2 linked regions of the Homo sapiens genome follow. The protein of the gene in region 2 purifies or fractionates together with the protein of the main gene of each other region. This does not show direct contact. Each region holds a gene or a part of one and is shown on either strand. Other genes may lie near its edges.

Region 1 (3,570 bases), on a different chromosome or scaffold from region 2:
GACGCCATCTCACGCCTGCTGGAGGTGCGTGTGATCCCAGAGCAGGGTCTGGCCTGGCACCCCCCTCCTCTCGCTCAGACACCAGGGTCGTGCGTGTGTGTGTACACTCGTACATGCACGTAAGTCCGGTTACCCCTGGGGGTTGGTGTGGCCCTGCCGTCTCCCCACCATGTGAACTGCCTACTGGCCTGGGGTGGCTGTGGCTCCCCAGGGCCCCGCACCACTCAGTGGGTGCTTCCAGACAGTGACAGGAGGGCCGTCATCAGAGACCCTCAGGTCTCAGTACACAGCCTCCACTCTGAGCACGTGTGTTTTCCCTGACCTGGCTTTGAGCAGCTCAGGCACCTGTTGAGGAGTCAGCCCTTAGAGACGACAGTGTTTTACTCCCTCTGCCAGACCGCCTGCCCCACCTAACGTGAGCAGCTCTGGGTTCTTGCCCTGAGAGCTTGGGGTTGACATTGAGGCCTCTCTTACCCCTCACTGTGCCATCCCTGGTGGGCCTGGACTGAACAAGGCAGAGATGCCTGGGAGGGAGAAAGGAGACTGCGATTGGGTGGTGGCTGGGTTGGTGTGTAAGGCCTGAGGCAGTGTCCTGCGCGTGGTGCTACCTTTTGGGGCCATCCCGGAGTCTCTGTGGGACTGAGCAGGCAGAGGAGTGTGGACCTTGGACCTAGGCCACGGGGGGACCTGCACTCAGCTCCCCACTGTTGGCTGTGTGGCCTTAGAGGTTATCTTTTTTTTTTTATTTTGAGATGGAGTCTCGCTCTGTCGCCCAGGCTGGAGTGTAGTGGCGCGATCTCCGCTCACTGCAAGCTCCGTCTCCCGGGTTCACACCATTCTCCTGCCTCAGCCTCTCGAGTAGCTGGGACTACAGGTGCCCACCACCACGCCCAGCTAATTTTTTGTATTTTTAGTGGAGACGGGGTTTTACCGTGTTAGCCAGGATGGTCTCGATCTCCTGACCTCGTGATCCACCTGCCTCGGCCTCCCAAAGTGCTGGGATTACAGGCGTGAGCCACCGTGCCTGGCCTAGTTATCTAAGCATCTTAGAGCTTCTGGTTCCTTGTGCAGAAAGTGGAAATGCTGATTCCTGCCTTACAGGGAAGTTGTGAGGCTTAAATGAGTCATTTATTTCAGTGACTTAGCATGGGGCACAGGGTTTGGGGGAGTACGGGAGTCATGGTTTGTGATGGAGGTGACCCACAAAGCACAGACAGCAGTCCCTTTTTCTCTCTAGCGATGCTCATTGTCTTAAAGTTGACGCGGTCTCATTGGTGCTAACAGAGTCACTCAGCTTTGTCATGACCAGTGTCAGCTTGCTCTGTTGTTTTCTTGTATTTTTTACTGGTCTGTGTGTTTATGTTTAAGGTGAGTTTCTTGTACACAGAATGTAGATGTAGTTGGGTCTTCTTGTTATCCAGTCTAATGGGTTTTTTTAATTGGAATTTTTAGCCCATTTTAATTTACTGTTACTATTGATGTGGCTGGGTTTAAGTCTGTCATCTTGCTCTTTGTTTTCTCTTTGTCCCTTTGATTTTTTTTCCTTTCTTTCTTTTCTTTTTTTAAAAAACAAGTGTTTTTAGTATTCTGTCTACTGTGAGTTGAGCTGTACATCTCTGTGTTGTGTTTCAGGGGTTGCTGGGGGCTATAATCATCTGACTTGAAATTACATCACCCTGTTGACACCAGAAGAGCCTTACGGCAGTGTGTGTCCATTCATGCCTTTCCTGTCCTGTTACTGTCACACATTTTATTTTTACGTATGACATAAACACCCAGTATGGTTTTTTTTTTTTTTTTTTTTTTTTTTTTGAGAGATGGAGTCTCCCTCAGTCACCCAGGCTGGAGAGCGGTGGTGCGATCTCGGTTCACTGCAACCTCTGCCTCTGAGTTCAGGTGATTCTCCTGTCTCAGCCTCCCAAGTAGCTGGGATTAGAGGCACCCACCATCATGCCCGGCTAAATTTTTTTTGTATTTTTAGTAGAGACGGGGTTTCACTGTGTTGGCCAGGCTAGTCTCAAACTCCTGACCTCAGGTGATCCGCCCGCCTTGGCCTTGCAAAGTGCTGGGATTACAGGCGTGAGCCACCGTGCCCGGCCCTGTTTTTGTTTTAAATAGTCAACTTTGTTTTAAGGAAATTAAGAAAGAAGGAAAAAGTCTTCTATTTTTGCCATTTATAACATTCTTCATTCTTTCAGTATAATCTGGTCTGGTTATTATTTCTCTTCAGCCTGAAGAATTTTTAATATTTCTTGTAATGCAGAGCTGCCAGTCACAAATCCCCTCAGCTTTTGTTTATCTGAAAACATCTTGGTGCCTTTATTTTGCAAAGGGCATTTTCTCTGGATATGCATTTCTAGGTTGACAGCTGCTTCTTTTTTTTTTTTTTTTTTTTAATTCAGCAGTTAAACTGATGTCACTTTAAAAGATCTCATTACTAGGCTGGGCGCAGCGGCTCACGCCTGTCATCCCAGCACTTTGGGAGGCTGAGGCAGGTGGATAACCTGAGGTCAGGAGTTCGAGACCAGCCTGGCAAATATGGTGAAACCCCGTCTCTACTAAAATATAAAAATGAGCTGAGCATGGTGGCGGGTGCCTGTAATCCCAGCTACTCAGGAGGCTGAGGCAGGAGAATCGCTTCAACCCGGGAGGTGGAGGCTGCACTGAGCTGAGATCGCGCCACTGCACTGCAGCCTGGGCGACATGAGTGAGACTCTGCCTCAAAAAAAAAAAAAAAAAAGATATTACTTTGTTTTCTGGCCTGTATTGTTTCTGCTTAGAAGTTGGTGTTGATTCTTATCCTTATAAACTGTGTATAATGGCACCCTTTGATTCTCTGCCTTAAGATTTTGCATTTAATTTTGGCTTCAGCAATTTGACCATTGTGGTTTTTGCTTTCGTCCTGCTTGGGGCTCTTTAAACTTCTGGGTCTGTGGGATGATCATTTTTGTCAAATTTAATACATTTCAAGCCATTGCTTCTATAAATTACTTTTTCTGCATGATCTCTCCCTTTCCTTCTGGAACTTTATTGTCCCATACGTTGCTGAAGCTCTGTTTGTTTTTTCTCAGTCTTTATCTTTGCAATTCATTTTGGATGATTTCTGTTGGCTTGTCTTCAAGTTCACTACTCTTTTCTTTCTTGTTTTTAATATACTGAAGCCCATCAAATGAATTTTTTTTTAATTTCTTGAGACAGGGTCTTGCTCTGTTGCCCAGGCTGGAGTGCAGTGGCACAGTCATGGCTCACTGCAGCCCGAACCTCCCAGGCTCAAACAATCATCCTGCTTCATTCAGCCTCTTGAGTTGCCAAGACTACTGGCGTGGGCCACGTGCCGGCTACTTTTTTTTTTTTTTTTTTTTTTTTTTTGTAGAGATGGGGTCTCCCTATGTCACCCAGGCAGGTCTCAAACTCCTGGGCTCAAGCAGTCCTCTCACCTTGGCCTCCTAAAGTGCTGGGATTACAGGCATGAGCCACCACACCCGGCCCCATCTAATGAATTTAACGCTTTTTATTGTAGAGATTCCCCATCTGATAAACCATTATGTCCATCTTTTCTTTTAAATCTTG
Region 2 (5,372 bases):
GGTAACATCCCAAGAGTCCACATTAGAGGTAAAACAAAGCCAACAGTTTAAATCCTAGAATTATATTTGTATAATCTGGATTTTATATTTTGAATGCTAAGATAATATAAGTACTACATACCATGAATAGAGAAACCTTTTACACTCATACAGAAAACGCTGCTCTTTCTCTACAGAATTTGATCTAAAGAAGGAAAAACAATGAGGTTTTTTTCACTGTCAGGACTTACTACCTGTCACTGTTTTCAAATTATGAAGAAACGTCTCTATACATTTTATTTCCAGGAAGAAATAACACATTTCTACATCTCTTTACTCTGGTTTCAAATGTGTCAAGTGTATTATCAAGGAAAAGCTGGTGTTCACAACTGAATAAAATTGGTAATTAGTTTCAAGTTAAAAAACAAAAATAGTAGCTCAAATGATTTAAAAAACAATGTAATAAAATTACTCGGTACACTATTGATGGAAAAAAATCACAATTAGTGATATTAATAATTATTGTTAAAATAATTATTTTATAATTATATAAATAAAATATTTATTTGTATAAATATAAATTATTTATATAAATAAATAAAAGGCTAGAAAAGACTTAGCCCATGTTATAAACCAATAGTGCTACTATTCTAGGCAGTTCATATTTACTCATTTAATCCTCACAACAAGACAGTATTACTATCCCCATTTTACAGATGAAGCTAAAGCACAGAAAGATTAAGTAATTTACCTAAGGTTGCACAGCTAGGAAGTGGAAAAGCTGTGATTTAAATCCATACAGTATGGTTTCAGAATCCTTGCTCTTAATCACAATACCTCTCTCTAAATCACCATGCCTCTCTTTAAACACTTGCTCTTAATCACCATATCTCTCTTTAAAACTTTATACAATAGCTACTAACTGATAACAAAAAGAGATCTTTCCCTTGAAAGACAGCAGAGATCTTTCAATAGAGAAGTCATCATAGACCAAGAAGCAAACCACTTCAAGGATTTCAGGATTTCTGACTGTGGATACATTCTATCAAGTTAAAAGCTTTTTAGAGGTAAAAAAAAAAAATTTTATAGATCATCTTAGTCTTAAATTCTCTCTCTTTACAAGCAAGACAGCAAAAGCCCAGAGAAGCTAATGTGGTAAGTGGTATGAAAGATTCTCAATTCTTAGCAAAGCCAGGGTTAACTTAAACAATTATTAATAATTAAGGAATACTGAGAAAGATAAATAGTACATAGATTGCCTTTGCTTCGCTTTAGTTTATGTCTTTAGATAATAGTAATAAAGCTAGCTGATGGCTGGGATTCACTTTTCTAATGAAAAAGTCTGTTTTCATTTTAAAAAACAAAAACTTAATTACATAAAAAAGAAAGTATGTTACTCTCATTATGGGACTACCAGAAATCTAGCAGTTCAGATCAGTGAGGTTGTAATCCAGGCACTTTCATCCCCCAGTGGCCGATTGCAAACAAACAAGTTTGTTTTTTGTTTTTTTTTTGAGACAGAGTCTCGTTCTGTCACCCAGGCTGTAGTGCAATGGCATGATCTTGGCTCACTGCAACCTCCACTTCCCAGGTTCAGGAGATTCTCCTGCCTTAGCCTCCCCAGTAGCTGGGATTACAGGCGCCCGCCACCATGCCTGGCTAATTTTTGCATTTTTAGTAGAGATGGGGTTTCACCATGTTGGCCAGGCTGGTCTTGAACTCCTGACCTCAAATGATCTGCCCGCCTCGGTCTCCCAAAATGCGGAGATTACAGGCGTTGGCCACCGCGCCCAGCCTCAAACAAGCAAGTTTTAAACCCAAGCCTGCAGTAGCAAAATCCCAGTACCAAAGAAGTGAGGAAAGATGTGAGAAGTCCCACCCTCAGTATAGTTTAGTTCAAGTATTTTCTTTCTTTTTTTTTTTGAGACTGGGTCTCACTCTGTCGCCCAGGCTGGAGCGCAGTGGCGCGACCTTGGCTCAGTGTGATACGCCCGCCTCAGCCTCCCGAAGTGCAGGGATTACAGGCATGTGCCACTGTGATGGGCCAGTTCAAGTGTTTTCTAACCTAATCTATTCTATGATGAAGAAACTGGGTTTGATTCTGCCAAAATGATAGCAAAATATACTGTGTGTTCTATGTCTTTATTAATAATTGTGTGCAGGTTAGTGAACAGATTCTGAAATTAGACTGCTTCAGGTATGATCTTGGTTTTTGTTTTTGTTTTTGAGACAAGGTCTTTTTTTTTTTTTTTGAGGCAGAGTTTCGTTCTTGTCGCCTAGGCTGGAGTGCAATGGCGCAATCTCGGCTCACTGCAACCTCCGCCTCCCAGGTTCAAGTGATTCTCCTGCCTCAGCCTCCCGAGTAGCTGGGATTACAGGCATGCACCACTACGCCTGGCTAATTTTTTGTATTTTTTTTAGTAGAGACGGGGTTTCTCCATGTTGGTCAGGCTGGTCTCGAACTCCTGACCTCAGGTGATCTGCCCACCTCGGCCTCCCAAAGTGCTGGGATTACAGGCGTGAGCCACCGCACCCGGCCAGAGACAAGGTCTTGCTCTGTGTGGCCCAGGTTGGGTGGAGTGCAGCGGCAGGATCACGGCTCACTGCCGCCTTTATCTCCCAGGCTGAAGCAGTTCTCCCACCTCAGCCTTCCAAGTAGCTAGAACTACAGGGGCATGCCACTATGCCCGGCTAATTTTCTTTTTAAATTTTATTTATTTATTTATTTGTTTGTTTGTTTGTAGAGATGGGGTCTCACTATGTTTCCCAGGCTGGTCTCAAATTCCTGAGCTCAAGGGATCCTTCTGCCTTGGCCTCTCAAAGTGCTAGGATTACAGGCATGAGCCATAGTATCTGGCTGAGCTATATAGTCTTGTAATTAACTCACATAAGAAGTTACTTAATTTCTCTTAATCTGTAAAATGGGGATAATAATACTACTACCGTACGGGCGTGGTGGCTCACACCTGTAATCTCAGCACTTTGGGAGGCCGAGGTGGGTAGATCACTTGAGGTCAGGAGTTCCAGACCAGCCTGGCCAAAATGGTGAAACCCTGTCTCTACTAAAAACACAAAAAAATTAGCTGGGAATGGTGGCAGGCACCTGTAATTGTAGCTACTCAGGAGGCTGAGGCAGGAGAACCGCTTGAACCCGGGAGGTGAAGGTTGCAGTAAGCCGAGACTGCATCATTGCACTTCAGCCTGGGCAACAAGAGCAAAACTCCATCTCAAAAAAAAAAAATAAATAAATAATAATAATAATAATAATAATAATAATAATACCTATTTCAAAGGGCCATTATGAGCATTAAACAATTTAATCCTTGCCAGGCACTTAGAGCAGTGCCCATAATAAATGCTTAGGTCTGGGCACGGTGGCTCATGCCTGTAATCCCATCACTTTGGGAGGCCAAGGTGGGTGGATCACGAGGTCAGGAGTTCGAGACCAGCCTGTCCAATATGGTGAAACCCCGTCTCTACTAAAAAATACAAAAATTAGCCAGGCGTGGTGGCACGCACTTGTAGTCCCAGCTACTAGAGAGGCTGAGACGGGAGAATCGCTTGAATCCAGGAGGTGGAGGTTGCAGTGAGCCGAGATGGCACCACTGCAATCCAGCCTGGGCAACAGAGTGAGACTCCATCTCAATAAATAAATGCTTAGAAGTGTTTGTTATTGTTATTATTACATAGAATGTTTATAAGACTTCTCTAAAAGTAAACTGATACATGCATGTTAGAATGAAATTTGTACTTTTCAGAATTATATGTATAAGGAGAAAGTAGGCCGGGCACGGTGGCTCACGCCTGTAATCCCAGCACTTTGGGAGGCCGAGGTGGGCAGATCATGAGGTCAGGAGTTGGAGACCATCCTGGCTAACACAGTGAAAACCCGTCTCTAGTAAAAAATGAAAAAAATTAGCCAGTCGTGGTGGCGGGCGCCTGTAGTCCCAGCTACTCAGGAGGCTGAGGCAGGAGTATGGCGTGAACCCAGGAGGTGTAGCTTGCAGTGAGCCAAGATAGCGCCACTGCACTCCAGCCTGGGTGACAGAGCGAGTGGCCATCTGAAAACAAAAAAAAAAAAAAGGAGAAAGTGAGCATAAACTGTTTCATGTATGTCTTTCTAGTTCTGTAGCAGGCCGTGCTGTACTGGGTGATTATCATATGAATATAATCATATAATCATTTGGTTAGATGTTCACAGCTTATTTTTCTTGATTTCTCCTCAGAGAATGGTACATGACTTAAATTCTAAACACATGAGAATGCTTTTCCTGTCTTATAATCCATTCTACTTATTGCATGCCACTGTTAACAATTTGGTAAAATTTGTTCTCCAGTGTTTGAACTAGTTAAAATAGCAGGGTAATGTTTTTCTTTTCTTGGCTCTGCATGTATTTCATAGTTTTAGTTCTCCTTTTATGAGAATGAGCTCATATGAAAACTCGAAGTCTAATTTAACAACACTGACAGACTAAAAGTGGCATTCTTCAGTCTGTCACACTGTGCTATCAGACATTACAATGAATGAAATGAGATAGGAAGGCAGGTAGAAGTTTCAGTTCATCAACAAAGAAAAACATTTGTTACTGATTATCCTTTCTTATGTTTGAATTTCATCTTTTAGGGTAAACAGGTTGACAGCATCAACTTGACTTCAAGATTCTCTTTCAAGAAATTACCATTTGAATAAGGATGTTCCATATTATGGGCATCTGGCAATGATCTACAAATACAGAACCAACTATTCAAAAAGCATGGGAAAAAGCAGATTTTTTTAATGGCTTATGCCTTTCATCTCCTTTTTTTCTTTAGTCAATTCTGGAAAAAAAACTTCCAACAATTAAAAACTTACAGTTGTTCATATTTTTTAAATTGCAAAAAAGAGAAGAAAGATCAGGCCGTAATTAAAAATCTTAATTTCCACACCTTTCTTCATTCTTTCTAAAATACTGTACCTTTTCATAATTAATTAACCTGGATTTCTCTTATCTTTTCATCTTATTAGAATCCTTCTCTCATTATTCATAGATTCCTTTCAACTTGATATCAGAATTGAGAACCCAAGGTTCAGTGTACAAGGGCACCTCGGCTGAAGGAGACTCTAGGACTCTGTTCTAAATCAATGGCCTGACCTCTGGATAGGGAGGGGTTTTGGATAATGCAGTGTGGAAGGAAGTATCTGGAAAAGACAGAAAGAAATCTTTGGATTACATTTTCAATGTGCTAGCTTTGTAAAGAGTTAAATATAGCCAGTTAGGAGTAAAAACAGAAAAGTCTTAATAACGTGTAACTTTTACTATCCTCTGCTTTCTAAAAAAAAAACTTTTCTACGATCAAGCTTTAGGATTTTGAGTTCCGTTCTCTGAAGAGTTTAATTAGGTTAAGTTTAATGA

What was found. The genes of interacting proteins can lie anywhere in the genome.
Region 1: the proteins of SPRYD7 (region 2) and SBF1 purify together in Homo sapiens (affinity purification with mass spectrometry; one large-scale study listed by BioGRID and IntAct). This does not show direct contact.

The regions. Positions count from the first base shown.
Region 1 is NC_000022.11:50,450,966-50,454,535, reverse strand, and holds part of SBF1 (myotubularin-related protein 5), read left to right. Parts: coding exon 1-24; intron 25-3,570. UniProt on the Homo sapiens protein: Acts as an adapter for the phosphatase MTMR2 to regulate MTMR2 catalytic activity and subcellular location. Promotes the exchange of GDP to GTP, converting inactive GDP-bound Rab proteins into their active GTP-bound form.
Region 2 is NC_000013.11:49,921,769-49,927,140, forward strand, and holds part of SPRYD7 (SPRY domain-containing protein 7), read right to left. Parts: intron 1-5,372.